Linked DNA regions of Homo sapiens. The protein of the gene in region 4 interacts with the protein of the main gene of each other region in a pairwise test. Each region holds a gene or a part of one and is shown on either strand. Other genes may lie near its edges.

Region 1 (7,535 bases), on a different chromosome or scaffold from region 4:
CTGCCCTCATTTCCTTGCTCCCATTATCCGTGTTGCAGCCCTCAGGGCCTGTGGCAGCTTTCTCTGTAAACAATATCTCCCTTCCTCAGGCCAATTAAATAAGCACTATAATAAAGGCAAAGGCAAATGCAAAGCACTGGGCAGCCCTGTGTAAAGGGCTATTAAACCTAATGCTGCCATTCATTTATTGAAGAGCCTCCCATGTGCCAGGGACTGTGCTAAGCTCGTTAGATTTGTGATTTTATTTAATCCCCATGGTGTCATGAGTTGGATTCTATTATCATCCTCATTTCACAAACACAGAAACTGAGACTTGGCACTCACCAGTAATGTCCCAGATAGCTGGCCATTTCATTACAGGGTGGAGAGCTGAGCCAGGGCCTGGCGATCCCAGAGCTGGTGTTCTCTTTTGGGGGATCCAAGGATCCTTTGAAGAGAGGTGATGTTTCCATGAAAGCTTATAAGCAGATAGGATTCAGAAGGTAGGAAAAGGGGGAATGAAAACCCGGGGCTGAAGGAAGAGTGTGAGCAAGTACAGGAAGGGCCCAGAATCCAGAATGTACTCTGGGGCCCATGAGCTGGAGCAGGAGTGCTGGGTAGAATGGAAGTGCCCAAACCTCACAACTGCAGTGACTTTTAAAATACGGGCTCCAAGGCCTTTCTCCAGACTGATTTCTCTAGGGGTGGAACCTGGAACCCTGAATTATAAAGAAGTTCCCCGGGGGTTGGGGTGGGGGTTCTGATGCAGCAGGAAGCACTGGAAATCACTAGAAGGTGGAGTTGGGGAGGCGTTGGCAGGAATGGAGCAGATTAGCCTGAAAGGGGATCAGGGCCAGATGAGGACTAACATGAAGACCTTGCTAAGTAAGGAGTGTGGCATTCAAGGTCCTTCTTTTTATTATAAGGCCCAGTAACTTTTTAGGCTAAATCTTATAAGCAATGGAAAGCTACTGATGATTTTCAGGAGAAACCAAGGTGTGATCCAACCTTTGTTATAGGAAGAACATCCTTGTGCAAGTGTATAGGAGGGATTGGAGATACTGGAGGCATTGAGACCAGTTAAAAAATTATCAAAATATTCCAGGTGACTAGTGATAAGTCTGTCAACTAGGACTGGAACAATGATGTTTCATTCAGTTCAATCCAACAAGCATTTCTTTAATATGTTTTCTGGATTGGGCACTGGACCAGGTTTTAGGGATCCTAAGATGAAATAAGATATTGTCCCCATCCTCAGGGAACTCGCAATCTATCAATATTCATTAAAAATAATTAAGTTGAGAGTGAAGGGAACTGTAGTTGGGTGGTATTATGGACTAAATTGTGTCCGCCACCCCAATTAATATGTTGACACCCTAACCCCCAATGTGACCGTATATGAAGACAGGGCCTTTAGGGGGGTTAAGCGAGGTCATAAGGTTAGGCCGCAATCCAACAGGACTGTCCTTATAAGACGAGGGAGAGACCACCAGAGCTGTCTCTCTGCCTGTGTACACAGAGGAGAGGCCACGCGAGGGCACAGTGAGAAGGTGCCATCTACAAGCCAGGAGGAGAAGCCTCTCCAGAAACCAACTCTGCTGGCACGTTGATCTTGAACTTCCAGCCTCCACAACTGTAAGAAAATCAATGTCTCATGTTGAATCCATCCAGTGTGTGGCATTTTGTTGTGGCAGCTTGAGCAAACTAATACAGACAGGTCTTAAATTTTTATTCATATTGTGACATTGGCAGAATTCAGTTGGGCCATTGATCACCCACATTGGAAGATTGGAGGAGGCAGCCTGGGCTGGTGTGGGCTGCTTATACCACAGACAAAGTGCAGGTAGAGTGAGAAGAGGGCCCAGAACCAAACAGAAACTCCAAAATTTAGGAGTGATAACTAGGATTTGTAGAAACTTCTATTTGGTTATAATGTCAGTGTGTTGATGGCTTATGCAATACAACATGTACATTCCTCTCCATTCTCTTCTTCATCCTCAGAGGGATGATGGGGAAGAAATTGTAGAGTATCTGTAGTGAATTCTTAATTTCTACTCTATCCTTTCTCTACTCATTGACAGAGCCAAAACTGAGATGTGGAACTCATGGAATTTGACATATTGACAACTCATTTCTTCATTAAGTATTTACTAGCTTGTGTCTTCTGTTGATTCCTGTATTATTGCTACTTAATGTTTTACATATTGGCGCTTTGTCTTCTTCAACAAATGAATGCTTCTTGAGGACAGGAGCCATAACCTGAGCCTCTTTGCTTCTGCTCTTTATTCTTAGTGCTAGCACACAGCAGAGCTTCTGGTGGGTGCAGGGAAAATATTTGCCTTCAGTGATTATAAAAACGATGGTTATATTTTGGATAATCATTTTTTAAGCTCTTGCAAATGACAAAAATAGTCAAAGCAAGATATATTTACTTAAAACTACGATGTGCAGTTTAAAGCACCAAAAAGGTATTAGTGAAAATCATAGTATTTGAAGACTCCAAAAATTAATAGCTCATGGCAATGGATCTCCCATATCAGGAAAGTGTTGGGCATTGATCTAGATTTCAGAAAACGAGGGGTGTGACAGGTGTAAATCAGTGATCCAAGGCTGTTGCCTGCGGTCCTATTTATGGCTCACTGACACCTCTCTGATGGGGTGAATTCAGCCTGATTTTCCCCTCTGACTCTGCAGGCTGCAGCAACTCACTGGGAGCCATGGGAAAGAGAGAAACTCCTCCCTCCAGGGGTCCTGGGCAGAGACAAATGGATCTCCCCTCCCCCTCCCTTATCTGAAGAGGGCTTCCCTCTGAGAGTTTATGGCAGCCTGACCTCCAGCCTCTGGGTTGGAGAATCTGGCCGCTTCTGTACCACATAAAAAGGGCAAGTGCATTCATTATTATTATATTATTATACAATGTATAATATATAATAGCGATTATGCTGTCAGCAGCCAGAGACTCTGACTGCAGATCAGAGGCTAGGGTGACATAAATCCACCTAGTGAAGTTTTTGAAGGTTCTATGTGAAGGTGAGAGGATTCTAATCTGTCTATAATGGGGGCTACCACTGAAGAGTTTCTCCCACAAGCAACGTTGGTGGGTGGATTTGAGGGTATTGGGAGGATCTGGACAAACAGTAGTGTGTGTATCTGGGATGTGATATAAGAAGGGTCTCAATTGCCTCCCCTGAGCCAGGCAATGCTAACAGCTCTCATCCTTGCCCATGACGGAGGCGGGTGAGTGGCGACCCAGAGGCCTGAGAAGAGCTCAGGGGCAGCCTTCAACTTCTTGGGTCAGATTCTTTACTGAAAACCCAGAGGCTGGGTTTCACTTTCTGCTTTCCCGCTTTTGTCGGTGTCTTTGTCTGGGCTTCTTCCAGGCCCCCTGCCTGGCCTGGGGTCAGAGGATCAATGGCTGCCTGACTGGCTGAAAGGGCTCCTCTATGGGGAGCAAGAAGCAAACTTCCAGAGGCAGAAGGGGTTCTCTTGTCCCTTTATGCGGAGGGCCATGTGCTAAGTTGAGGAAGCAAGCAAGTGTGCTCCTGTGTGTGGCTCTTAGTAGGACTGTGATCTCTGCTGAGTGAATGGAGGCGCTTGTGGGTCTACACATGCCTGCTTTTGTCTTCCACTGTAGAGGGCATGTAAGGAGCCCATTTCCTCCCTGATGTAGATGAAGCCACCCCAGCAGGCCCAGGCTGAAACAGCCCAGCTGGTCTTTCCCTTTATATGACTGCACCCCAGCCCCCAGAACTCTGGGAACTCACTGAGTTTCTTGAGGACTTTTTATTAGAATGAAAATAGCAGTGGCTTAGAACAGGCTTGCCTGACATTTGCAAAGAAGTGCTTTACTGACAAAGCCTATCCACTCTTTCCTCTCTCCCTCTGCCCCACCTTGAACCAGACACCCCGGGAAGCCCACAGCAGAAAAAGCTCTTGAGACCAGGAATAACTAACCAGAGTGTCATCTGAACACCTTTTCTGGGGCCAGGGTAATGAGAATTATTCAAATGCAATCATAAAAATGAGGCCAGCCAGGCAGGAAAAGGGGGAGGGGGAGTGCTGGTGGAAGGAAGGATTTCTTGCCCGTTTTAAGTTTCATCATTTCTGGGGAGTTCTCTTGGGGTCCACAGAAAATCTCACCTCATCTCGGTCCCCTCAGCACCGGTGATATCTTGGAACTCGGCCCCGGTTGTTCGCTAAGGAGGACTTGGCTTGGGGGCGGGAGGGTGCTCCAGAGTTCCTGGGGGTCCACCGCACTCCCCATCCGAGGCTCCTCGCGAGCGGAGCCGCTTCTCCAGGCCGCCCGCCTCCCTGCCGCAGGAGCAGGCCCGCGCCCGCCGCCCGAGAGCCTCCGGTAGAGGGAGACACTCCAGCGGCTCCTCCGACTTGGCAGCGGCCGGGCCGGGAGTGGGTGGGGGTGATGGGGGGTGGGGAGAAAAGGGGGAGTGGGGAGAGGGGAGGTGTGTGAAGGGGGGGTCCGGGGGGCGGGTCCCTGTGCCGCTGACGTCCCGAGCAGTGCTGGGAAGTATAGGCTGTGTTGTCACGCCGGTGTCAGTCTGATGAAGATTGGCATCAGGTAAGCTGTCATTCATTTCCATGTCAGAGACGCTTTTGCAGGCGGCGGCGGCGGCGCGGCGGCGGCTGCTGCTGCGGGCGGCTGCCTCAGAGCGCGTGTGTTTTATTCCAGTCCCCAAGCCAGAGTATTATTCATTGCGACAGGGCAAGGAGGAGAGAGGGAGAGAGGGAGGCAGCAGGGAGGAGAGAGAGGGAGGCAGCAGGGAGGAGGGAGGCAGGGAGCAGCGAGGGACGGCGGGAGCGTGCAGAGAGAAGCTGGGGAAGCGCCGGGAGAGCGCGGAGCGGAGCAGCGCGAGGGGCGGCGAGGCCGGGCACGGAGGCTGCGAGAGCCCCGCGGGCCGCCCGCTCCCCTGCCCGGCCAGCGCTCAGCCCCGCCGCCGCCGCCGCCGCCGCCTCGCCGCGCTTGGGCCCGTGGCCGGCCGCGCATTGTCCTCGGGTGCAAGGAGCCGGGCTGCGGACTCGAATCGCCGCGGGCCCAACCCCGTAGCGGGCGGGCGGGGAGCTGTGCGCCAGGAGCGCCAGGGGACCCGAGAATAGGAACAGGCACGCCGGCCCGAGCCCGGGTGCAGAAGGCTCCCGGCCGGGCGCTCCGCGGGGAGAGGCTGGGAACCGCGGGCAGGCTCCAGGTTCTCTTTCTCCCGGCTTCGGGCGTCCTTGGGGCCGGCGCTTACTCCGCGCCACCAGCCTGGAGATGCTTTCCAGCGGCTGGAGGCGGGAGCGGTCCCAGGCTGGGGCCAGGTGACCGGAGGAGTCGAGGAGCCGCGGCCGCGGCCTGGGGAGGCAGGGCGAATGAGGGTTTGCAGACGGATCAGTGGAGACAGGGGAACACCGGCGGGGCCCGGGAAGCCAGGATCCGAGGGGCTACACGCACGGACCCTCACCCAGGGAGGAGCGAGAATGTGTAGGGTCACCGGCTTTCCATGATTGCTGGGGATCTTTGGTGAGGCGGGCGTAGGGGCCCGCGCGAGGCTTGGGAATCGGGAGCCCTTCTGGCTCGAGAACTAGGGGATGAGTTCGTAAAAGAGGGAACTGAAAGCGATCGAGAGCGGAGAGCTGAGGGGGATGGCGCAGGATCCCGAATCTGCCGCTCAAAGTTTGCATTTCTTTCGGGTTAGGAGACGGGCTTTCCTGGCTCCCGATCCCCAGGAAGAAACGAGCGAAATGGGCCGTCCTTTCCCGGGGCTCTTCACGGGGGAGCCGGGGGTTTCCGCGCGGTGGGGAGACTCGGGTTGGGAATTGAGGGGTAGGGGCTTGTGGATCGGCCTGAATTAGGGCTGGGTTTTAGGACCAGTCTAGAGTTCGGTTTATAGGATCCAGACTGTTTACGGAATCGGGATCGAGGGGCCGATAAGTAGTTTACACGCCGGCCAGAGCAGAGGGCTGGAGGTCGGAGTTGGGGGCTGGAGGAACGGGTGGCGTTTTTAGGATTCAGTAACAGGATCACAGCTTTTTCTTGTGGTGGAAGCTATTGGAATTTGGGGAGGGTAGCACGAGGGGTCCTGCAGCTCCGCGTGTGAAAAAGCGTTTAGGTAGGCGATGAAAGTAGTTGATCTGAGCCATGGCAGGCGAGCCCCGAATTTTTGCTGCTTCCCCCTGAAAGTGTTTCTTTAGGAGGAGAGGACTTGGGCCACACAGGACCCGGTCCTAAGAGAGCGATTCCGGGAAGCGGACAGATCGAAGAGACCTTCTGGGCGAAGCGGCAGGGCAGCCTCGCGGGGCTGGGAGTGGATCTGAGGTCCCGACCCAGGCGGCTCGGAGTGCTCCAGGAGCCACCTGGGTCTGCGGGCGCAGCGCGGCGGGGCGGGAGCGGTGGCCCGCAGGGGCCGCGGCCTGCGATGAAGGCCGGGGGGCAGCGCTAGCAGCGAGGTGCCACAGTGGGCCGAGGAGTCTGGGCTGTGGCCCAGGGTAGGACCGGCTCAAACTCCAGTGCCCTGATTGGAGCCGCTTCCTGTGCTTACCCGCGCCGGACTGAGAAGCCCACAAACCCGGCCTTTGGTGCGCCCGGGGGAGGAGGAAGCTTGGAGTGCCCTACTGTCATCTCTCCTGTCCGGAGACTTCAGGATATTAGCTTTTCGGGTTTCAAATGCTCTATAACCGGTGGCAGCCAAAAGCTTCGCATTTTAGGCAGTTTAGACGATCCTCCCCGCCCCAAATCTGAGAATGATGGTGTTCAAACATAACACGGTGTATTACCCAAAGCCCCTGCCCTTGCCCTCCTGCTCTCTCTGCCGTTCTGGCCTTCGGAGGCCCCAGGACCTTGGTGGAAGCGGGGAGGGAGGGTCCCGTTTCTGGTCTCATAATCTCCCACTCGGGCTGCATCCCCATAGCTTGGGCCTAGCTGTGGGGTGTGGGGTGGGAAGGGGTCCCGACCAGGGAGGTAGGTTATTCTCTGGGCATCTAGAGAAAGAGTGTGTGTGGGGGGTGGGAGCGGGGGGGAGGAGGGCATTGAGGGGAGGAAGATTTGAGATTTCCTCCTCTTAATATTAAACCCACCATCCCAGCCCCCTGCACCCCTGGCAGGGAGAGCCAGACAGCCCTTACAGGACACGGAAGACGCACGACCCACGACCCACGAGTGGCCTCGGCGGCCCGGGGCGCGGCGACTGCCGCCGCGGAGCTCCAAGGCTGTTGTTTTGTAGGCTTGGAATTCGTGAGAGCTCTCTCCCGCTGAGAGCCCGAGGGGGGAGGGAGCCGTGACCCCACGGAGACTCCCTGGTCACCGCCTCCCCTTTGTGAGCGGGAAAGGCTTGAAAGCCAAGAGAAAGAGAGGCTGCTCAGAATAAGGGGCAGGGGGTTACCGGAGGGAGATGGGCCCGACCACCGCTCACAGTAAAATGCCTCGTGCGAATTGCACTGAAGTATACCCAACTTGAGACTGGCTGTTTTATGATCCTCTCTGGGAGTTTACTGCTCTCTGCTTTTAAGTCTATAGATTGCTTTAAGTTAATGAAAGTGCTGCTTTCAAAAGGGGCTTTTATTGT
Region 2 (7,022 bases), on a different chromosome or scaffold from region 4:
CTTGAATCCAGGAGGTGGAGATTAGCAGTGAGCCAAGCTCATGCCATTGCACTCCAACCTGGACAACAGAGCGAGACTTTGTCGCAAAAAAAACATGGGGAAAACCCTACAAGTAACCAAAATGTTCTTCTAACAGAGGATAGTTAAGTTAACCAAGACATATCCAGAACATGAAATATCACGCAGCTGCTTTTCAAGAAATGTTTAAAAACAGAATAATACAATGTTAAGTGAAAACAAAGTAGAGTATTATACTGCATCCTGCATTACACAGTATGATCCCATATAAACACCTATGTGTATAAAAATGTGCATCCCTGGCACAAACAGAAAAAAAGTCTGAAAAGAAATATATAAAAATATGAACAGTGATTGACTCTAGATGGGAGTGGATTTAGTGGTCCTTTTGCAATTTCCTGTATTTATTTATTTATTTATTTATTTATTTATTTATTTATTTATTTTCCCAGACGGAGTCTCGCTCTGTCGCTAGGCTGGAGTGCAGTGGCATGATCTCAGCTCACTGCAACTTTGCCTCCCAGGTTTAAGTGATTCTCCTGCCTCAGCCTCCCGCATAGCAGGGACTACAGGCGTGCGCCACCACACCCAGCTAATTTTTGTATTTTTAGTAGAGACGGGGTTTCACCATGTTGGCCAGGATGGTCTCATCTCTTGACCTCGTGATCCGCCCACCTCAGCCTCTCAAAGTGCTGGGACTGTATTTCTCCCCTCCGCCCCCCCCACCCCACCCCAAGACAGGGTCTTGCTCTGTTGCCCAGGCTGGAGTGCAGTGGCACAATCTCAGCTCACTGCAACCTTGACCTCCTGGGTTCAAGTGATTATCCCACCTCAGCCTCCCTAGGAGCTGGGACTACAGGTGTGGTGCCACCACATCTGGCTAAGTTTTGTATTTTTTTTTTTTTAAATAGAGATGAGGTTCCATCATGTTGCCCAGGCTGGTTTCAGACTGCTGGGCTCAAGATATCCACCCACCTCAGCTTCCCGAGTAGATGGGACTACAGGTGTGTGCCACCATGCCACTCTAGTTTCCTGTATTTCTTCAAAAACTTGTTAAGTTTTTTTTCCTAAGAAAGACTAACTGGTTACAGCCCAGCACCTCTATGAATCCATTCAATGTTTTATCATCCATGGATCTTTCTTTTTCCTGACAAGTTCAAGAACTTGCACAGCCACAACCAGGACTCTACCCCTCCCCAACAGAAGTACTGTTGGGAACTGATTCCCATTCAGCTCTCTAGTAAGCTCCTCTGAATCTTATCCAGGGTATTATTTACTTTTATTTATTTTTTAGACGTGGTCTCGCTCTGCCAGTCATAGCTCACTGCAGACTTGATCACCCAAGCTTAAGTGATCTTCCCACCTCAGCCTCCAGAGTAGCCAGGACTACAGGTGTGCATCGCCACGTCTGGCTCATTTTTAGTAGAGACAGAGTTTCACTACGTCACTCAGTTTGGTCTTGAACTCCTGAGTTCAAGTGATCCTCCCGCCTTGGCCTCCTAAAATGCAGTGTATTAAAGTGTAAGCTTTCACTATTCCTCATCTGGTAAATCACTCACTGACGTATGTGGTTATAAAGATTAAGGTGATCTTTAAGATTAAAACAGCATGTGTGGGGGTAGGGGGGTATATGGGAACTCTCTGTACCTTCTGCTCAATTTTGCTGTGAACCTAAAACTGCTAGACCTAAAAAAAAGTCTATTTTTAGGCTGAGTACAATGGCTCATGCCTGTATTCCCAGCACTGTGGGAGGATCGCTTGAGGCCAGGAGTTCAAGACCAGCCTGGGCAATATAATAAGGTTCCATCTCTGAAAAACATGTAATAAGTAACAAAACACAAAATGTGCATTTTATGTCTGTCTTCCCCACATCCCCATTTAGAATGTAGCCAAAACAAGCAGGGAACAGTTGCACTTGGTTCTGTTTAAAGGCAATATCTCCAGCATCAATAACAACATCTGGTACAAAATAGCTGCAACTACCTACCGACTTTCTAAAAAACAAATGCCTTTCAGAACACTCTAGGTGTCAAAATCCATTACGAAGACAAAATACAAAAAGAAACCACTTCAAATTTTCAGCTCATTTGTCTCATTTAGAATATTCACAACCAAGCAATCCTGTAGTAAGAAGAAAATATTAGGTCACATCCTTAGCCTCTGTAACAGGAAGTTCTGGATTAAATCAGGAATAAACTGGCAACTTTAGTAACTAAAACATTCATTACCTGAACTGTCTAATTTTTTTAAACTTCTAAACCAAATCCAAATGCCAGATTTGTCATGCCATTCACAACTACAGCTACGTGATAGGTCTTGACCAGCACTGACCAACAAAACTTTGTACAATGACCACATCCTTCTCCATCTGTGCTGTCCCCTACAGCAGCCGCCTGCCAAGAGTGCTGAGCATCTGAAAAGTAAGGCTAAATGAGGCTACTGTGAGATTGATCTTTTAGCTTTATTTAACTTCAACATAAGTAGTCACATGTGGCTAGTGGTTACTATACTGGACAGTGCAGGCCTACAGTTCAGAGTAGGGAGGAAACAAGTATACAAAGGCATAGCAGGTAGGCAGGAGAATCAATTGTGTGTCTTACCCTACAGTTTAGGAATAAACATACTAGCAACTGCCAATCCCTAGTCCCCTGTACTTTTAACCCATGCTTGGCGGATCTGCAACCAAGAAATTGTGGGGGTCTGCAAATACTTCACCTACTTCTCTGGTTCAACTATCATCTCTCAAGAAGCAAATATTTCCCAAATGTTATTTCTTTCTTCTGTGCCAGGAGCTACTAATTTTTATTTCTTAATTGAATTCCAGATAAGCAAAGCACTACACAAAGGCCACAGAGAAAACAAAATGGCAAGTCACAATCTCTTCTGAGTTTTACAATCTGGAAAAGCGCTGTCCAACAGAACTGTTCACAAAGATGGAAACGAGCCCTGGCAATATGGCAAGACCCTGTCTCTACAAAAAGTAAAAAGATCAGCTGGATGCGGTGGTGCACACCTGTGGTCCCAGCTACTTGAGATCAATTGAGTCCAGGAGTTCGAGGCTGCAGTGAGCTATGATCGTTATCACTGCAGTCCAGCCTAGACAATGGAGCAAGACCCTATCTCAAAAACAAAGATGAAAGCCTGTCTGTACTATCCAAATATGGTAAGTGAATTTTTAGTTTAATTAACTTCAACAGTCCTATGTAGGTGACAGCCATCGTATTGGACAGTGCAAACATATACATAATAAGATTAAAAGTATGAATACTTTCTGATACAAGGCAACAAGTGTTAAGAGTCACAAGAGAAAGGCCGGGCGCGGTGGCTCACGCCTGTAATCCCAGCACTTTGGGAGGCCGAGGCGGGCGGATCACGAGGTCAGGAGATCGAGACCATCCTGGCTAACACGGTGAAACCCCGTCTCTACTAAAAATACAAAAAATTAGCCGGGCGAGGTGGCGGGCGCCTGTAGTCCCAGCTACTCGGGAGGCTGAGGCAGGAGAATGGTGTGAACCCCAGGGGGCGGAGCCTGCAGTGAGCCGAGATTGCGCCACTGCACTCCAGCCTGGGCGACAGCGAGACTCCGTCTCAAAAAAAAAAAAAAAAAAAAAAGAGTCACAAGAGAATAAAGTGTTCTGAGGGCTGAGAGGGGAGAGCAAAAATTCTGTGGAGGAGGGAAGAAATAGGAAAAACTTGATTAAAGGGCAGCGTTAGGCCAGGCACAGCGGCTCATGCCTGTAATCCCAGTACTTTTGGAGGCCAAGGTGGGAGGATCACTTGAGGTCAGGAGTTGGAGACCAGCCTAGCCAACATGGTGAAACCCCATCTCTACTAAAAATACAACAAAAATTAGCCAGGTGTGTTGGCAGGCACCTGTAATCCCAGCTACACAGGAGGCTGACGCAGGAGAATCACTTGAATCTGGGAGGCAGAGGTTGCAGTGAGCTGAGATCGTGCCACTGCACTCCAGCCTGGGCAACAGAGCAAGACTCCGTCTCAAAAAATAGTAATAATAATAATTAAAGGGCAGCATTTCCAATAAACAATGGATAGGATCAAATCAGCCTCAGAAATGAGAACAAGCAAGATGCATTTTAAGAACATTAAGCAACTGAGTTTGTTTGGAGCTTAGGCTCTATGTAGGGAATCAGTAATAGATGATTGTGGAGACACAGCTTAGGTACAACCACCAAGTGGAGACCCTTAAATACAGGCCTGAGTGGAGATGTCCTCTGGTAGGCAAAGAAGCTCCTGAGCAACTCTGAGGTAAACAGAGTTACCACATGACCCCACAATTCCACTCCTAGGTACATACCCAAGAGAAGTGAAAACACATGCTACACCTACAGTTGGACATGAACATTTGTAACAGCATTATTCCTAACAGCCAAAAACTGCAAATTCAAATGAAGTACTGAAGGATGTTAGGAGGCTCTCCTTCCATAATGACCTGACTTATAGCCTAGACCAATAATAATAAAACTCTACTTGGCTGGTTGCAGTGGCTCATCCCTGTAATCCCAGCACTTTGGGAGGCCGATGAGGGCGGATCACTTGAGACCACGCGTTCGAGACCAGCCTGGGCAACATGGTGAAACCCAGTCTCTGCTAAAAATACAAAAATTAGCTGGGCGTGGTGGCACACACCTGTAATCCCAGCTACTCGGGAGGCTAAGGCATGAGAACCGCTTCAACCTGGGAGGTAGAGGCTGCAGTGAGCTGAAATCGCACCACTGCACTCCAGATGGGGCAACAGAGCAAGACTCTGTCTGGGGGGAAAAAAAAATCAAATGGAGCCTTTACATCTAACTTCCAGTTTACAAGAAACGCAGGAGTAGGAGGGAATATGCTGAATGACACCATGAAACAATCAGACAAACCCCAAAAGTGGGACATTCCAGAGGACAAATGACCCAGTTTCTTCAATAAGGCAATGGTGGGGGGAAAAGGGGGCGGGAGAGGAGGAAGGCCAGATAATTCTAAATTAAAATAGATATAGACATAAAAGCAATAGCTGAATTTTGTTTGGACTCGATTTAGACTGAAACAACTGTAAACAGAGTTTAAAGATATCTGGGACACGACTGAATACTGGGTATCAGCTGGTATGAAACAATTATGTTTAATCCTGGTAACAGTACTGTGATTATGTATAGTTACATAAATTTGTAAAGATACAATAAAGTATATAAAGTCGAAAATGATACATCTATACTTTAAAATATTTCTACAAAAAGAGCAAATAATCTCTACATCAAGTAGAAATTATGTAAATGCTAATAATCTTTACATCAAGATGTTGCATATAAGGTTATGCACTGTACTGCCGCATTTTCAATTCTGCATAATGCAAAACTAAAGAAAAAACACACCATCACCAATCTACCTGAAATGTTAGTGCTACTAAAATCTCCCTGCAACCACCAACTTTCCAGTCTAATTTGCTGTGGACTAAGAAACCCAAACCCAAGGCTGGATCTAGAGCGTACCACTTTTTTTTTTTTTTTTTGAGACAGAGTTTTCACTTTTGTTGCCCAGGCTGGAGTGCAATGGCGCGATCTCAGCTCACCGCAACTTCTGACTCCCAGGTTCAAGCGATTCTCCTGTCTCAGCCTCCTGAGTAGCTGGGATTACAGGCATGTGCCACCACACCCAGCTAATTTTGTATTTTTAGTAGAGACGGGGTTTCTCCACGTTGGTCAGGTTGGTCTCGAACTTCCGACCTCAGGTGATCCGCCAGTCTTGGCCTCCCAAAGTGCTGGGATTACAGGCGTGAGCCACTGCACCGGGCCGAGCTTACCACATTTTTAGTTTCCCATTTGAAATGACTCAACTGTCAGAATTCTTATGGGTGGTTTGACACCTGCATTAGAATAGACAAATGTCAGATTACCTTTAAAAAGATGACAGCAAAAATTCCTAACTTGAAAATCAAATCATAATCAGAAGAAAACTCTATCTTTAAAATGAAAGACCTGGCCAGGCGCAGTGGCTCACGCCTGTAATCCCAGCACTTTGGGAGGCCAAGGCGGGTGGATCACAAGGTCAGGAGATCGAGACCATCCTGGCTAACACGGTGAAACCTGTCTCTACTAAAAAAAAATACAAAAAGAAAATTAGCCACTCACAACTACTTGGGGAGGCTGAGGCAGGAGAATGGTGTGAACCCGGAAGGCGGAGCTTGCAATGAGCCGAGATGGCGCCACTGCACTCCAGTCTGGGCAACAGAGCGAGACTCCATCTCAAAAAAAAAAAAAAGAAAGAAAAAAGAAAGACCTGGCTGGGCATGGTGGCTCACGCCTGTAATCCCAGCACTTTGGGAGGCCAAGGTGGGCAGATCACGAGGTCAGGAATTCCAGACCAGCCTGGCCAACATGGTGAAACCCCGTCTCTACTAAAAATACAAAAATTAGCCAGCGGTGGTGGTGCACACCTGTAGTCCCAGCTACTTGGGAGGCCGAGGCAGGAGAATCACTTGAACCCAGGAGGCAGAGGTTTCAGTGAGCCGAGATCATACCACTGCACTCCAGCCTGGGCGACATGGACGCTCCATCTCAAAAAAAGAGGCCGGCGCAGTGGCTCACGCCTGTAATCCCAGCACTTCGGGAGGCCGACGAGGGCGGATCACGAGGTCAGGAGATCGAGACCACAGTGAAACCCCGTCTCTACCAAAAATACAAAAAAAAAAAAAAAAAAAATTATCCAGGCACGGTGGCAGGCGCCTGTACCCAGCTACTCAGGAGGCTGAGGCTGGAGAATGGCGTGAACCCAGGAGGCTGAGCTTGCAATGAGCCCAGACCGTGCCACTGCACTCCAGCCTGGGCGACAAAGCGAGACTCTTGTCTCAAAAAAAAAAAAAAAAAAAAGAAAGAAAGACCTATCACTATATACTATTGTTTCCTGGTTTGGAAACATACCATCTCTAAACAAAGTTCCACACAGAGCACTAAGTATGAAATACTATAACACGAGGCCTTTAAAATTTTATATCAACAAATCTAATT
Region 3 (7,738 bases), on a different chromosome or scaffold from region 4:
TACTTCTAACTGATTCCAGAGAAGCAAGCAGGGTTAGGGAACTCAGTCCAAGCAGGGCCAGTTAAACTGCGTGGCGGTGGTGTACTTGGAGATGTTGTGATATAGTTCACCCTGAGCCATTCAGGCAGGTGCACGCCAGCATCTGGTGAAGTACTTTATAAGAAACAGGCTGCTGTTAACCAGCGAGGCCTCTTTTGTAAAAGGTAGGGGAAGGAGTTCTGGAGTTAGGAGTCAAGGATCCTCATCCTTCTGAGACCAGAGGTATCAGCAATGAAGCTCTCTTATTAGTCCTAGAAGAAATGATCCCAGCCTGAGACTGGGTTGCCCTGCTGCTTAAAGGACTGTCCTGTAGACCGTCACGAGGGCTCCCATTGACTGGGGGGAGGCCAAGCCTTTCCCCTCAGGTGGCCATCCTTACCACCACCTATCCATGTCCTTGTACAGAGGCACCTGCTTCTAGAGGCCCACCAGAAACATACAATTCTAGGTAACTGGAGTATAGTCTGAAAAGCACATAAGTACCTGTCTCCACACACATACCCACTTGAAACAGAGAGCCACATTCACATGAATTAAGAAGTATATGCATGTTGTCCTATAGCACAGCCACACAAACCTGTGCCCTATCTCATATACCACCAGTAGCTTCCAGGACAAATGACTGTACTCAGGAATTTAGGTAGACCTCACCCATGCCCCAGAGAGAGGAGGAAATATGAAAGGCCAAGTCAGATGAAGCCTCCTTCACAACTTGTCCTTGCTGTGAGACAGAAGATAAGGTATCTGCTAATGGTGAGGCAGGAAAGCAGACAACCAGCTAGTGACCTCTCCTAAAAACAGCCTAGGCTTCAGGGGAGGATTTCCTGGTACCCTTTTCCTGCCTTTTCTGAAGATTCTGGACTTTGATAATTCCCTAGCTTATGAAGGAAAACTTTAACACAAGGTTCGAGGGACTCAGAACTGAACAAGAAACAGGAAGGGAGAGGATGAGACTATTAGGTACTTTTCTGGAAGGAAACTTTATATACTCCTCAGAAGTGAAATCTCTCCAGTGGTCAACTTGTTTAACTGGAAGTCTGGACAGAAGCGGAGCAGCAGCCCTCCTCCCTTCGTATCCAGGATCTAATTTTTCCTGAAGAATTGTGAGCAAAAAACAGGAGTCGAGAAGGGGACTGGGGCAGTGGTTCAGGGCCAGCATCAAGGAAGCACTTTAACCCGGGAGTTGGCATTCCCCTGCACACTTTCTTCTCGCCTCAGAACATGTGGGATTCCCATTTTCCCTTTGGATTTTATGGGCAGAGGCATACATCCAGCTAGGAATGGAAATGTCAGGAGAGGAGGCCTCTTGGTATCTGAGATAGGATGAGCAGGAACAGATTGCTTTTCTTGTCAAGGGAGCTATAATTGCAGTAAGCTGGAGGGAACACCTCTGGTGAACACTAAGCTGACCTCGGCATGCCCTGGGCAAGGCCAGGACCCCAGATGCCACCGTGATTTTCATGACAGCCCACTCTCCAGGGGAAAAGGCCCAAGGGTGAAGGGTGGTATGGGAATCTTACCACTGGTTGGGTTGTGTAAATCACTGCTACACAGTATGCATGTTCTCAAAATGCAGCTGTTTTCCGATAACCCTTTTCCTCAGCATGAAAACATCCACTTCCCTAAGGGACCTAAAATGAATCCCATCCCTTTAGTCCCCAAACACTAAGAAACCCATTTCTCAGAGCTTCTGCAGCAAGATGTGGGTTCAAATCCAGGAGCTCCCTTGGATCACATTTCCCATTGGATTTTCTGAGTCATCACTCTGTCTTCCCCGGCAGTGAAACCCACGATCCACCAGCTCAACCCCCTACACCCACTAGTGCCAGACAATGACAGAGAGAAGATGAAAGAAAGCACTAACCTGTCTCCAAGGTTCCTCCGGCAAAGGGAGGGAACCACCTGGTACTGGAGTTTGGGGTTGGAGGGATTCCCCTCTTCAGAGGCAGGTGACGGCTCTCATCCTCAGTGGCTCTTCCTGGACGAGGCTGAGCCTCCCAAGTTGGTGAGGGGAACTGGGTCCCCTGAGGATGAGGAGTCAAGGTTGGAGGAGGGGGAGGGGGAGGAGAAGGAGGTCCTACTTGGGGAAGGTGGCACACCCCCCACACCCTGCTTGTTACCCGGGGGAGGAGGGGAGGAGCCTCTCCCAACCAGGAGTTGTCTCCTCCCCCTTGGGGGAGTTCCCCTCCCCCCCAAACTGGATCTTTCTGAGGTGGAGGGCTCTTTCTGTCTGCTGGAGATAGGAGCGGAGGGGCTCCACCCCGTTCCACTGTCTAGGCACGAGGAAGTTGAGGGGGAGGTCTTCCCCTCTCCAGAAGGCTGAAAGCCGATTCCTCTTCTTTCCCTGGAGTGGCTTCTGAACGTAAGGACTCCTGTCTCCTGTGAATAGTGGTGGGCCGAGGGTGCCTACTCCACAGGCACAGCCCCGTCTCTCTTTGCCTCCAAAGTCCTGAACTGTTGAGAGTGTGTGTTTGGAGGGGCGGGGGCGCGCTAGGGTGGTCTCACTCTGCTTCCCTACGGAAAGCTCCCTTCTTTCCACTTCTGGGGGTCTCCTCCCCGGCCAGTACAGGGGTCTTCCTCGCCTCTAGGCAGGAGAGAGGCGTCCCCTCCAGGGGTCTCTTCTTTCCCTCACCCGAGTGGTAAGGGTCTTTTCTCTCCAACAGGGGGAGAGGTTGCTCGCGTCCCCGCTCCCGCCTCCGCTCCCGGGGTGCCCCAGAGGGTGGGGCTTTCGTACTCCCGGCTGTCCCTGAGCTGGCCTGGGCAGCACGGTCCGGGAGGCCGCGGCTCGAGACTCCGGTCCCTGCTACTGTGGCGGCAGCACCTCCTCTAGGGCCGTCCTGTCGGGTCCGCTCCCTTCGGCGCGTGGGGCTCCCCGCGCTGCCACCGCTCGGGCTCCGACCAGTCTGGGCTCCCGGGGAGCCAGAAGGCGGGCAGACAGTGTCAGGGCTCGGCGCGGGCTCGGGCTCGGCTCGGCTCCGCTGCAGGCCCCGGCTCCTCCCCGGCCTCCGCGCCGCGCTCCGCGCCCCTCCCCCTCCCCCGCCCGCCGGCCGCTGCCGCCACCGCCTCCCGGCGCGGGTTAAGGAGGAGCCGGGAGACGCCGAGCCGCGGGCAGCGCCGAGCCGCGAGCCTCGCTACCCGGTGTGCGCTCCGCCTGGAGAGCCACGGCCGCTCTCACGCCGGCGAGGGATCTCGCCGCCCTCGCCCACCTGCGGCCGCGTGGCTCCGGGAGTTCGCCGTCTACCCGGGATGACAACTCACTGCTCCCCGTCGGGAGAGTCCCTAGTGCGCACCGTATACCGTCAATTCCAGCTGACACCCCAACTCCGGCGTTTCATTCTGTTAAACTCCGTATACAGATGAACAGCCCCAGCTTTCTCAGGACTGTCTTTGATGGGCTTCTCTTTCCCTCGAGATAATTTATAAAGGATCATGAGCATTGAGGTGAAGATTGGGGTGAAGTTTATATGTTACCCTTATATCATCCTGGAATTCAGTAAATGCTCCTTGAATGAGTGGATACATGATAAATGAGCGTGTAACGGTGAAATAAACATCAGAAGATCTGGGTCCTGTTCCTTGTTTCAGCTTCCTAAACTTGTGCATGGCCCTTGTTCTCCGCAATCTTGCTCAGCGAAGAAGGGACCTTGATACTTGGCCTGCTTACCCTTTACAGCTGTCACATCCTGAAGTCATATTATTCTGCTGCAAATTCTCATATATTTCATACTCTGGCTTTTTTTTTTTTTTTTTTTTTTTTTTTGAGGTGTTGTTTCACTTATTGCCCAGGCTGGAGTGCAATGGCACGATCTGGGCCCACTGCAACCTACGCCTCCCGGGTTCAAGCGATTCTTCTGTCTCAGCCTCCCCAGCAGCTGGGATGCCTCAGCCTCCGGAGCAGCTGGGATTACAGGCGCGCGCCACCACGCCCGGCTAATTTTTGTATTTTTAGTAGAGATGGGGTTTCACCAAGTTGGCCAGGCTGGTCTCGAACTCCTGACCTCGTGATCCACCTTCCTCGGCCTCCCAAAGTGCTGGGATTACAGGTGTGAGCCACCGCGCCCGGCCCATACTCAGGCTTTTTAAACTTTTATCAAACTACCCTACTTTCTTTCCTTTCTTTCTTTATCTTTTTCTTCTTTTTAAATAGAGGCAGGGTCTCAGTATGCTGCCGAGGCTGGTCTTTAATTCCTGGGTTTAAACTATTCTCCCTTTTTATGCCTCCAAAGTGCTGGGATTACAGGCAGGAAACACGGCCCGGCCTACTCTCTACTTTATAGCACATAAGATAATAGGAGGCCAGGCGCAGTGGCTCACGCCCGTAATCCCAAAGCTTTGGGAGGCCGAGGCGGGGGGATCACTTGAAGTCAGGAATTGGAGACCAGCCTGGCCAACGTGGTGAAACCCCTGTCTCTACTAAAAATACAAAAATTAGCCCGGCGCGGTGGCGGACGCCTGTAGTGCCGGCTAAGGCAGGAGAATCGCTTGAACCCGGAAAGCGGTGGTTGCAGTGAGCCGAGACCGCGCCACTCCACTCCAGCCTGGGCGACAGAGCCAGGTTCCGTCTAAAAAAAAAAAAAAAAAAAAAGAATTAGCCAGGCGTGGTAGTGCGTGCCTGTAATCCCAGCTACCTGGGAGGCTGAGGCAGGAGAATCACTTGAAACTGGGAGACGGAGGTTGCAGTAAGCCCAGATCGTGCCGCTGCACTCCAGCCTGGGAGACAGTGAGACACCGTCTCAAAAAAAAAAAAAAAAAAAGATAATACGAATACAAAAATATTGCTTGCAAAATATTTGAATTGCCCCCAAAAGACTGCATACTTAAGTTGTATGTATATATTATATGAATAATTATATTTACAATATGCCAGGCATTGCACTGAGCATTCTGCATGTGTTGTCACATTGATGATTCTAGCGATTCCCTAAGACACTATTATTATACTTCTTTTACAGATGAGAAAATTGTGACTTACAGATACTATGTGTGAGTTCGCTTAATTAGTAAGTAGCAGAGTCAGGACTTAAATCCAAATGACTCCGATGCCCAGCTCTTGACTTCTATACCATTGTCCGGAGCGATCAGAATTTAAAGTCATCCTCAAAATTAAAGGCAGTAAACCAAAACAAGCCTGTTCTTCCTGCTCACACTTCCTATATTCAGGTTTAAAGATGTATTTTTCCTCTCTTTGAGGCATTAAATAATTCTCCCACACGCAGATAATTTGGCGGCAAATCTTTCTTGCTATGTATTAGATGTTTTGTTATGTTTCAACCGTTTTTGACATTTCCTGTGTATGGAAATTGGAGGGCTTGAGTGACAGGCAGTTGTACTAAAAATGGAAACATGAGGGAAGGATTAGAATCTTCCTGGCAATTTGGAAAAATAAAAAGCTCAAGAAATTATTTGGTTTTTACAAGACATTTGCTGCAGTATTTTTTGTAACTGGAAAATTAGAAAAGACCTAAATATCCAAAATAGGGTAATTTTAAATATATTATGGCACATCTGTACAACAGAGTACTATTTAGCATTTGCAAGAATAATTGTATTTATCTCTGAAAGGTAGAGTGAGTGGAGTTGTTTTATTTTTATAATGTTCTTTATCATTTAGATATTTTGCAGTAGGCATACATTATTTTAAAGAACCATTGTTTTATATATCTGACTTATTTGAGTGAGAAAATAATATTTTAAAATTTGTATAATGCAATCATATAGTTGCTTTTTAAAATATATATATGTTCATGCATATATTTGTGTGCATACCAATAGACACATAGAAGATGGATACACACCAAAGATGTGAGTTTATGGATTATTTTAATTTACTTCATTTTTTAATGTATCTATAATTAGTGTTTGTGTAGATTTGCTTATGTAATTTTTAAAATTAAAAGAAACTGACAAGGCTGGTTTGGTATGGTTTTGCCCTAAGATTGGGGGGAAGCACTTACATTCATTCTCACTTTACTTTCTATTAAGGCGGGTAATACGGAGAAGGATTTTTTAAGTCACTGAAACATACAGAAATTAAAATGTAAGGATCCACTCTTCTTTGTAATAAAACATGTTATATAATTATTCATGAGTGTTAATTTACCTTGAGCAAAACTATTCTTTATAAAATTGGAGACTAATATGCTACAACGCACGTTTTGGAAGCACTTATTAGAGACTGTGTATTACGTGAAACAAAAATAGTGGTTCTCAACTGTGAGTCCTAATAATTGTGAGAATTTAGGTAAGTCATTTAACTGCTTTGTGACTCAGTTTCCTCATCAGTAAAATGGGGATAATAATAGTACCTATTTCATAATGTTGTGAAGGGATTATGTGCCTTTATACATGTAATATATTTAGTTAAATGCCTGAAGGAGGAAGGACCTAGAGACTGAGAGGCTTATCAACCAAATGCAATATATGTGGACCAAGAGACATGTCCATCAAATACAATATGTAGACCTTTTGAGGGATCCTGATTAAAACAAAGCAACTGGAAAAAATATTATGAGACAACTGGTAAAATTCCAATACTGAGGGCGATATCAAACAATTATTGTATACTTTAGGTGCTAATGGAATTACCATTTTATGAATATTTATGAATACTAAAGTATTTAGACATGAAATGCCTGAAATTTGCTTCAAAATAATCAAGTAATGGGGGAGAGGAGTACAGATGATAGATGAAAGATTGAACGAATGTTGCTTTTTACAACAGTTTTTTTAAAATGCTATTCTCTGGGCCAGACGTGGTGGCTCATGCCTGTAATCCCAGCACTTTGGGAGGCCAAGGCAGGTGGATCACCTGAGGTCAGGAGTTCAAGACCACCCTGACCAACATGGAGAAACCCCGTCTCTACAAAAATATGAAAATTAGTTGGGCATGATAGCAGGTGCCTGCAATCCCAGCTACTCGGGAGGCTGAGGCAGGAGAATTGCTTGAACCCGGGAGGCGGAGGTTGCAGTGAGCTGAGATCGTGCCATTGCACTCCAGCCTGAGTGACAGAATGAGACTGTCTCAAAAAAAAAAAAATCTTATTTTCTCTACTTTTGTGTGTGTTTGAATTATTACAAGATAAACAATTTTTTAAAAAGTACTGTTTAGCCGAGCGTGGTGGTTCACACCTGTAATCCCAACACTGGGAGTCTGAGGCGGGCGGATCACGAGGTCAGGAGTTCGAGACTAGCCTGGCCAATATGGTGATACCCCTGTCTTCACTAAAAATGCAAAAATTAGTCGGGTGTGGCGGCACGCACCTGTAGCTCCAGCTACTCGGGTGGCTGAGGAAGAAGAATCGCTTGAGCCTGGGAGGCAGAGGTTGCAGTAAGCCAAGATCGCGCTACTGCACTCCAGCCTGGGCGACAGATCGGAGACTCCATCTCAAAAAATAAAAATTAAATTTAAAGTACTGTTTAAAAATGCTGGAACATAGCTAGGACTATGTTTACTATTATTATATGCTTTGTATGTGTAATACTACCTAATGTCTGTTTACACCTTTCAGATTACAATGTTTTCATTTACACTAGGTCTTTTAGGATTGACACTAAACCTACGAGGTGGGGAAATGTTATTCCCATTTACAAATGAGACAACTGAACCACAGCCAAGACCGCATCTCCACTCTTCCAGATTCCTGGGGACCTGTGATCAACGGAGTAGGGGGTAGCCTGCCGCCACTAGACACAGAGTTCT
Region 4 (7,413 bases):
CAGAACCTTGCTGGTCTCTGTAGGGTGGGATAAGTGAAGCAACATTAAACCAGGTGCAGTCCTTAATTTCTCAGGTAACATAACTTTAGAAAAAACAATTCTAATACAAGTTAACTCCTGTCTGGTTGAGCAAATGGACACCATCTGTATACAAACGTCAGATACCAAGAAACTCAGATCTTTACTTAGTGAAACCTTCCACTACTTATGAAAAGTCAAATACCATTTATAACTCATCTAGATCAACCAGTCCCTAGACACTGATTTTTGGGAAGGATTTTTAGAGAATTACTGACTCAGATTTAGGGCTTAAAGACTATTGAGAAATAGGAAGGTATTGAGAGACTGGGTTTCATCAGAGCGGACTTAAGTAACCTGGTTGATCTTAGAATTGTCACAGCAAAATCATCATGCTCAGATGCTTGGGGCCTGGCAGAACCTTGCTGGTCTCTGAAGGATGGGATAAATGAAGCAACAGTAAATCAGGTGCACTCCTTGATTTTTCAGGTAACATAACTTTAGAAAAAAACAATTCTAATACAAGTGTAACCTTATCCTGTTAACTCTGTTTCAAAAATAATTCTAAAACACTAAGACAATGCTTATCCTATTGCCTCCAAAATAGGATTTTGTATTTTAAATGGTTTACCAAAAAATGTATCTTATACTTTTGGGTAAACTTTTATTTTGTTATACAACCAAAAATCTTAAAACTATCTTAGTACATTAACGTTTTAACAGGTCAACTTTTAGTCTTTATGAGCAGTTTTCACGAAGTTTTACTCGACATTTAAAAAATGTAGTTAACATACTGTAGATGCTTCAATATTGCTGCTTATTCTTTGTAATCTTATTTGGCATAATATAATCATGTTCAGAGTTATTTTAAAGTAACTTAAAGTGAACAGACGCACTCCCTCCTCCCCCCACCCTCAATTAAAAAAAAAAGGAAAACAGAAAGAAAGAAAAAGAACAAAAAATAAGATTAGGTTCTAGGAGGAGGGAAACCCTAATCCAAGTGTGGGGATACAGAAGTCAGCTTTTTGCACCCATTCTCCATGCTACAGAATAAAATTTGAGACTACAGCCAAATATTTTCTAAAACCTTTCAAGACGCTCCAGTGGATTTCTGGATTTGTTCCTTTAAAATCAGGATACTCTGCCTTTGCTCAGGGGGCAGCATGGCAATCTGATCTGCAGTCAGTTGAAGAACCTGCATGATCAAAGCTGCCTTCTCCTGATCCTGTGGAGTGACCTGGCTCTGCCCAGGACTAAAACTGCTAGGCTGGCTTCCACCTTGCTTGCTTGCCCCCTGTATACCTCCTCCTTGTATACCTCCTCCTTGTATACTGACTCCTTGTATGCCTGCCCCCTGCATCCCTCCTCCTTGTATGCCTGCTCCCTGCATGCCTGTTCCTTGTATGCCTGTACCCTGCATACCAGCTCCAGGATTCCCCACCCCTGAAATGCCTGGGACCTGTCTGGGTCCCTGAGGAGGGCCACCTGCCCCTATATTAATGGGACCAGGACCCTGAATTCCACCAGTCATAGGGCCTCTTGAACTGGGGACAGGGCCCCTCATCTCCAATCCTCTTGCATCCATGCCCCTTGCTTCCATCCCTCTGGTTTCCATCGCACAGGTCTCCATTCCTCTCCTCTCCATTACACGTGTCTCTAAGACCTCAGTTTCCATGGCACGAGTCTCCATCGCTCGAGAATCTCTACCACCTCTACCATCCATAGGTAGACCCCTTTGATCTATCATGGGGCCTCTGGGCTCTCCAATTAGCAGTCTGGGATCTCCTAATGGCCCTCCCCTCATCTCATGTGAGGAAGGGCCACGAGTGTCATGACCAGAGGCATGATGCATGGGGGGACCCTGATGGGGTGGACCCAGATAACCTCTGGGCTCCACTTCTCCAGTGACTGAAAGCAAAGTCCCTCCACGTGGGTCATTTGGAGCATCTCCTAACAGTCCTCGAGGAGGCAGACCACCAGGAGTCACGGGTCCGCGAGGTATAGGAGCTCTAGGATCTGACATCTGCACTTGTCCCCGCTCTAAAGGCACTGGGCCAACCCCTGGCATTCCAAGTTGGGGCTGCATTGCTCCTCCAGGAGTTAAGGAACCAGGACCAGCTCCGGGAACTGCAGCTGGTATTGGCCCTGGAGCTGGAATTCCACCCTGGATAGGAGTCTGCATCAGAGGAGGAATGTCCTTCACAGGTCTTCTAGCCAAATGCTGAGGCTGAGGAGCTGGAGGATTCTGCTGGTTCAGCAGAACATTAGGTCCTGGGCAGAGCCCAGGGCCAGGGCCAGGGCCAGGGCCAGAGACAGACACAGACTGAGATTTGCCTGGGATCAGTGGTGTGACATGTATCTTCCGATGCAGAATTTTCAGAGCAATCTCTGGATCCATGATTCTCATCACTACTTGTGCCTGCAACAGTGCATAAGCCAGTTGTGGATTTTGAAGTAACATGTTTCGAGCTTCCTGGTGGCTGTTTTGGACACAGAGCTTCATCTGCTTCATCAGCTCAAACATCTGCTCCGGGGGGAGACTGGCTACTGCTCTGGTAATCGATTCAGGGGCATCTTCTGGATCGATGGGATCCCCATAGGGTGAGTCAATAATGGGCGCTGCAGGCCCAAGGCTCTTTAACTCCTCCTTATTCTTTTCACTGGCAGCATTGTCCACCCGAAGCGCTCTCCCACTGAACTCCCGCCCATTGAGGTTCCGCATGGCACTAAGCGCGGTCTCCTGGTCTTGGTATTCGCAGAAGCCATAGCCCTTGGGTTTTCCCGTCTCTCTATCGTATACCAGCCGGAAACTGACAACAGAACCAACCTCCGAGAAAATGTCCTTTAACTGCTCCTCAGTTGCCTCATATGGAATGTTCCCCACGAACACGGAACGCAGTGATCGATCCATTGCCGGGTCTCTCACCGCCAAACTCGACATGATTCCGGTTGTGCAGACAGCCGATAGCGGATTCTTCGAGGCGTCTGTCCTCTTGCGACCGACACTTCCGCTGAGCAACGGAAGCGGCTTTCAAGATCCGGGCAGAAACTTTACTAATTCGCTTGAATCGTTCCGCTTGCCTGTGGAACCTGCATCCCACTAACAACTTATCTAATGCTTTCAGTCCCTGATCCTTCATGGTTCTGTCAGCTTCTTATTACAGAGTCGCATGATTCCTTTCCCATTTCACGTTCCGCTGACTTTCTGTGGGGCCCCAACAGCCCCACTACGACACGCTTGGTACGAGATGACCACAGTAAAGATGGCCGCATAGACTTCACCGTAGTAACTGGGAGGGGACTCTTCCCTTGACGTCAAAGGCGGTTTTGCTTCCGTTCCGCTGGCGGGAAACCGCCAACCGAAAGCGGATTTAAGGCGGCGTGTTTTTCGTTCTGACAAAGTATTTTCATGTGGCCTTTTATTATAGTATAGTTAAGCTAGATTTAAAATCACATTCCAGACTGAGGGAAAAGCGTAGTCGTTTCAGCACATTTGAGATTTGCCCCTTAAACTAAAACAGTATTATATCTCCTTTTTAGAACAACGTTTTTGGAAATTAACTGACAAGAAATATAAACTGAAGCGTGTGCCGGCTGGGCCCTGCCCCCATTCTGTTGCTTCCTATAACCGCTGTTAATGGATGGGTGGCAGACCCTTCTAGGTTTTTCCTGAGCACACGGGCAGCCGTCGTGCTATTCCTAATATTACGGTTTTCTTCCTTAATAACAACCGATTTCAATATTAATTGGTGATTAAATAAATTAGTGATTAATTAGTTATTAGTATTTTATGGCTTCAGAGTATGGAATAAAGAAATTTACTTAACTATCCCTACGTTGATTGGTTCTGATTTTTATTATATCATGCAGTGAGTCCACCACTTCCATGAAGGGAGAAACAAATAGCGGGTGTTTGTCTTCTGCTGTTAGCTTTGCAGGTAGGAGTTAAAACATATTCAGTGTGGTGTTTCCCCGCCTGCAATTCGAAGCTAGAACTGAAGCTTGGAGAGGGCTAGGTAAATTCCCAAGGACAAGCAGCTGGAAAGAGGCCAAGTCAGGATTCTAACCCAGCTTGGTCTCGCATAGCTCCAATTCTACACTGCCTTACGTGTATTGAATATATGAAATGAAGCTAGTGTGATTGAAGAAATGAATTTTAAATCTCATTTTTTATTTAAATATAAAAACTAATGTTCAGTAAGCTATTGGAAAACTTTTTTAGTATTTAGAACAACTTGGATATAGAATCTACTTTTGCAATAATAAATTGTGTTCTAAATAAAAATCATTTTGAAGAACACTAAGACAAAAAATAAAAACAAATAAAAAGAAAGTATTTCCAGTCAAAATTTAACATACTGGTTGAGGTGTGCCATACATGTAACATACATGAAAGATTTTAATGATCAAATACAAAAAAAGTAAAAATAGCCCATCAATTTTATATTTTTTATAAGTCGAAATGTAATATTTTTATATATTTGAGTAAAAAATTATTTTGAAGTTAATGTTATTCATTTCATTTTACTTTTTTAAATGTGGCTATTAGAAAATTTAAAATTATATGGATAGATTGCATTATACTTCTGTGGACTGGACTGCTCCAAGCCTGTGCTTTAATTCCAAAACAGAGAATTATTTTATTCTGAAATATGCCTCTTAAGTGGATTATGAAACTTTTAAATTTCAGCAAAAAAATTGTATTATGTATCTTCAGTATCCTATTCCAATGAATAGATTTGACATGAGTATGATGGTTTAGCTGCAAATAAGACATCCATTTACCTTCAAGTTTTTGAAACAGTTCTGCACTTAGCTGTTCACCCAAGATGCGCGACAGTTTATATTTGCAAGTGACAAGGTTCATTTACATCACCTAATAAGATTTTCCTGCTATGTCAAAGAAACGGAATAGTCACCTGCTAGCAATGTTTCCCCAGTGTGATTCTTTTATTGGGGACGAAAGGGGAGGGGTTAAGGATAGTATCATTTAAAAAAACTAAAGACAAATCTATTTTTCTTCCTTCTATACCATCACTTTACAAAGAGAAGGCATACCTTTTTTATACACATTCTGTCAAGGGTAACTTACAAGTTGAATATGTGTGTAATTGTGTGTGTATTAAATGTAGTAATCATGAAGATGGTAATGGGGTATTATAATATGTTGCAAAATTCGTAGAAGATTGCACATCTTGACAGAGTTTCTTTACTGCTGATACTGTCTAAACCAGTGGTCTTCACATGTAGCAGAACCACCTTGAGCCATGGCTTGTTAAGTCAGATTCTGCTTTATCAGGTCTGGAGAATTTGCATTTCTAATAAGCTCTCAGGTGATGCTGATGCTGCTGGTTTGGAGATCTTTAAGAATCATTGGTCCTAGGGATTGGTAGTAGATTTTCTCATTTACATCAGACCAAACTAAATTTGGTACACTCTATTAAAAGGTTTGAGGTAAAGGTTTTTAAAACATTATGAATTTACTATTAATATACTATTCTAGTACATGCTGATCTGCTACTGAAGATACCCTGGACATGAAGACTGGGTGAACAGAGAGTAGCTGAAGGACTATGGGACAAACAAGAAGGGGGAAGTTATGACTGTAGAGTGTGCTTTAGTCACAGGCTTTCCATGTTCTCTTTAGTCCCACTGTTCCAAACTAGAAGAATGGTTTGTCATGCCCCCGTTCATACAGGACCAGTGTGACCCACCATGTAATTCCATGCCCAGAACACATGAACTAATACTTATTGTTAACTCAATGTCCCCAAATCAAGAGCTCAGATAAACCTATGTATATTTCCTGGTACCAGTACATATTTTTTTATAGATCTAACTTGGAAGAACATCCATTTTTATACTGCTTTTTTATTCCCATAAAGTTTAAATTTTAGATATTTATAGCATGGCATACACTCTGAAGAAAAGTGTACATGGTATAGTGTATGTCCAGACGTTGATTCTTTCAACAGATTGATACCAGATATATTAAGACTGATTTCAAACACACAAGAGCATCTATGGCCAAATGGAAACTGTCCTTTAATCACTTTCAGAAACTACAAACTTAATCCATTGTTCAAAATGAATTTTTTTTTTTTTGACACAGGATTTCACTCCTGTCAGCCAGGCTGGAGTGCGATGGCGTGATCTTGGTTCACTGCAACCTCTGCCTCCTGAGCTCAAGCAATTCTCCTGCCTTAGCCTCCCGAGTAAAGACTACAGGCGTGTGCCACTACTCATGGCTAATTTTTTGTGCGTTTTGTAGAGACGGGGTTTCACCGTGTTGGCCAGGCTGGTCTTGAACTCCTGAGCTCAAGCGATCTGCTTGCCTCAGTCTCCCAAAGAGTTGGCATTACAGGCATGAGCCATTGCACCTGGCCTCAGACTGATTTTTGAACTTCTACCCTGAAATTGCTTTGGGCCTTCATTTATAAGTCATACTAGAAAATCGGTACATTAACTGAAAAGTATACTTTATTTTTAACAAAGAACAGGATTATGCAACAAAATCACCCAACTTCCTGACCAGATTTGGCAAAAATATCATGCTTAGCTAATTCCAAATATCAAACCTTACATCAGAATACAAAAATTCTATACACTTTGAAGGAATTTTTTAAAAAAAGATTCACTATAGAGTGTAAGGAAAAAAGAAAAGATTCACTATTGATTCAGTAGACAAATTCCAAAGACAAGAACTACAAATATTTTGAGTAATGACAGTCATTTTTGAAATAAGTGTACGGGTCCTTCAAGGAATAGCTCAAATAAACTACTCCACAAAGCTTTCTATGACCTTTCTACCCTTTCCCCTAGGTTAGAAGTAATTTTGTTTTTCTTTGGATATAAACCTTGATATACCTTGTACCTTTCTGATTATAGTAACTCCTTTACCTTTCAGCAAAATTGTGATTTTCCTTCTAAACTGTAAAATCATTATATATCCCCCTTTATCAGTTAACTAAGTGCCTCAAATTTATTATTTCATTCCATCAATATTTATTTCAAGCACTGACAATACAGCAGTGAAAACAATAGTCTGCCAGAAAAGAAGGTCTGTAAATGTGGTCCTTGGTTCAGTGGCATCAGCATCACCAGGAAACATCTTAGAAATTAAAAGTTTGGGGCCCTACTCCAAATCTATTGCATCAGAAACAGAGAAATCTTTGAACAAGTTTTCCAGGTAATTCTAATGCAAGCTCAATTTTGAGAACCACTACATTATAAGATTGCAATCATAGTTGCCAGGCACAGTGACTCACGCCTGTAATCCTGGCACTTTGGAAGGCGGAGGTGGGTGGATCATTTGGTCAGGAGTTCAAGACCAGCCCGGCCAACATGGTGAAATGGTGAAACCCCGTGTCTACTAAAAATACAAAAATTAACCAG

Evidence for each region.
Region 1: the proteins of CSTF2T (region 4) and PKNOX2 interact in binary tests that used the Homo sapiens proteins (3 or more experiments, as listed by UniProt).
Region 2: the proteins of CSTF2T (region 4) and FAM168B interact in binary tests that used the Homo sapiens proteins (3 or more experiments, as listed by UniProt).
Region 3: the proteins of CSTF2T (region 4) and FOXJ2 interact in binary tests that used the Homo sapiens proteins (3 or more experiments, as listed by UniProt).

Annotation. Positions count from the first base shown.
Region 1 is NC_000011.10:125,160,222-125,167,756, forward strand, and holds the start of PKNOX2 (homeobox protein PKNOX2), read left to right. Parts: upstream 1-4,529; 5' UTR 4,530-4,555; intron 4,556-7,535.
Region 2 is NC_000002.12:131,083,456-131,090,477, forward strand, and holds part of FAM168B (myelin-associated neurite-outgrowth inhibitor), read right to left. Parts: intron 5,882-7,022; exon of another isoform or gene 5,508-5,881; intron 1-5,507. UniProt on the Homo sapiens protein: Inhibitor of neuronal axonal outgrowth. Acts as a negative regulator of CDC42 and STAT3 and a positive regulator of STMN2. Positive regulator of CDC27.
Region 3 is NC_000012.12:8,027,999-8,035,736, reverse strand, and holds the start of FOXJ2 (forkhead box protein J2), read right to left. Parts: upstream 3,022-7,738; 5' UTR 1,904-3,021; intron 1,671-1,903; exon of another isoform or gene 1,560-1,670; intron 1-1,559.
Region 4 is NC_000010.11:51,696,591-51,704,003, forward strand, and holds the start of CSTF2T (cleavage stimulation factor subunit 2 tau variant), read right to left. Parts: upstream 3,006-7,413; 5' UTR 2,960-3,005; coding exon 1,109-2,959; 3' UTR 1-1,108. UniProt on the Homo sapiens protein: May play a significant role in AAUAAA-independent mRNA polyadenylation in germ cells. Directly involved in the binding to pre-mRNAs.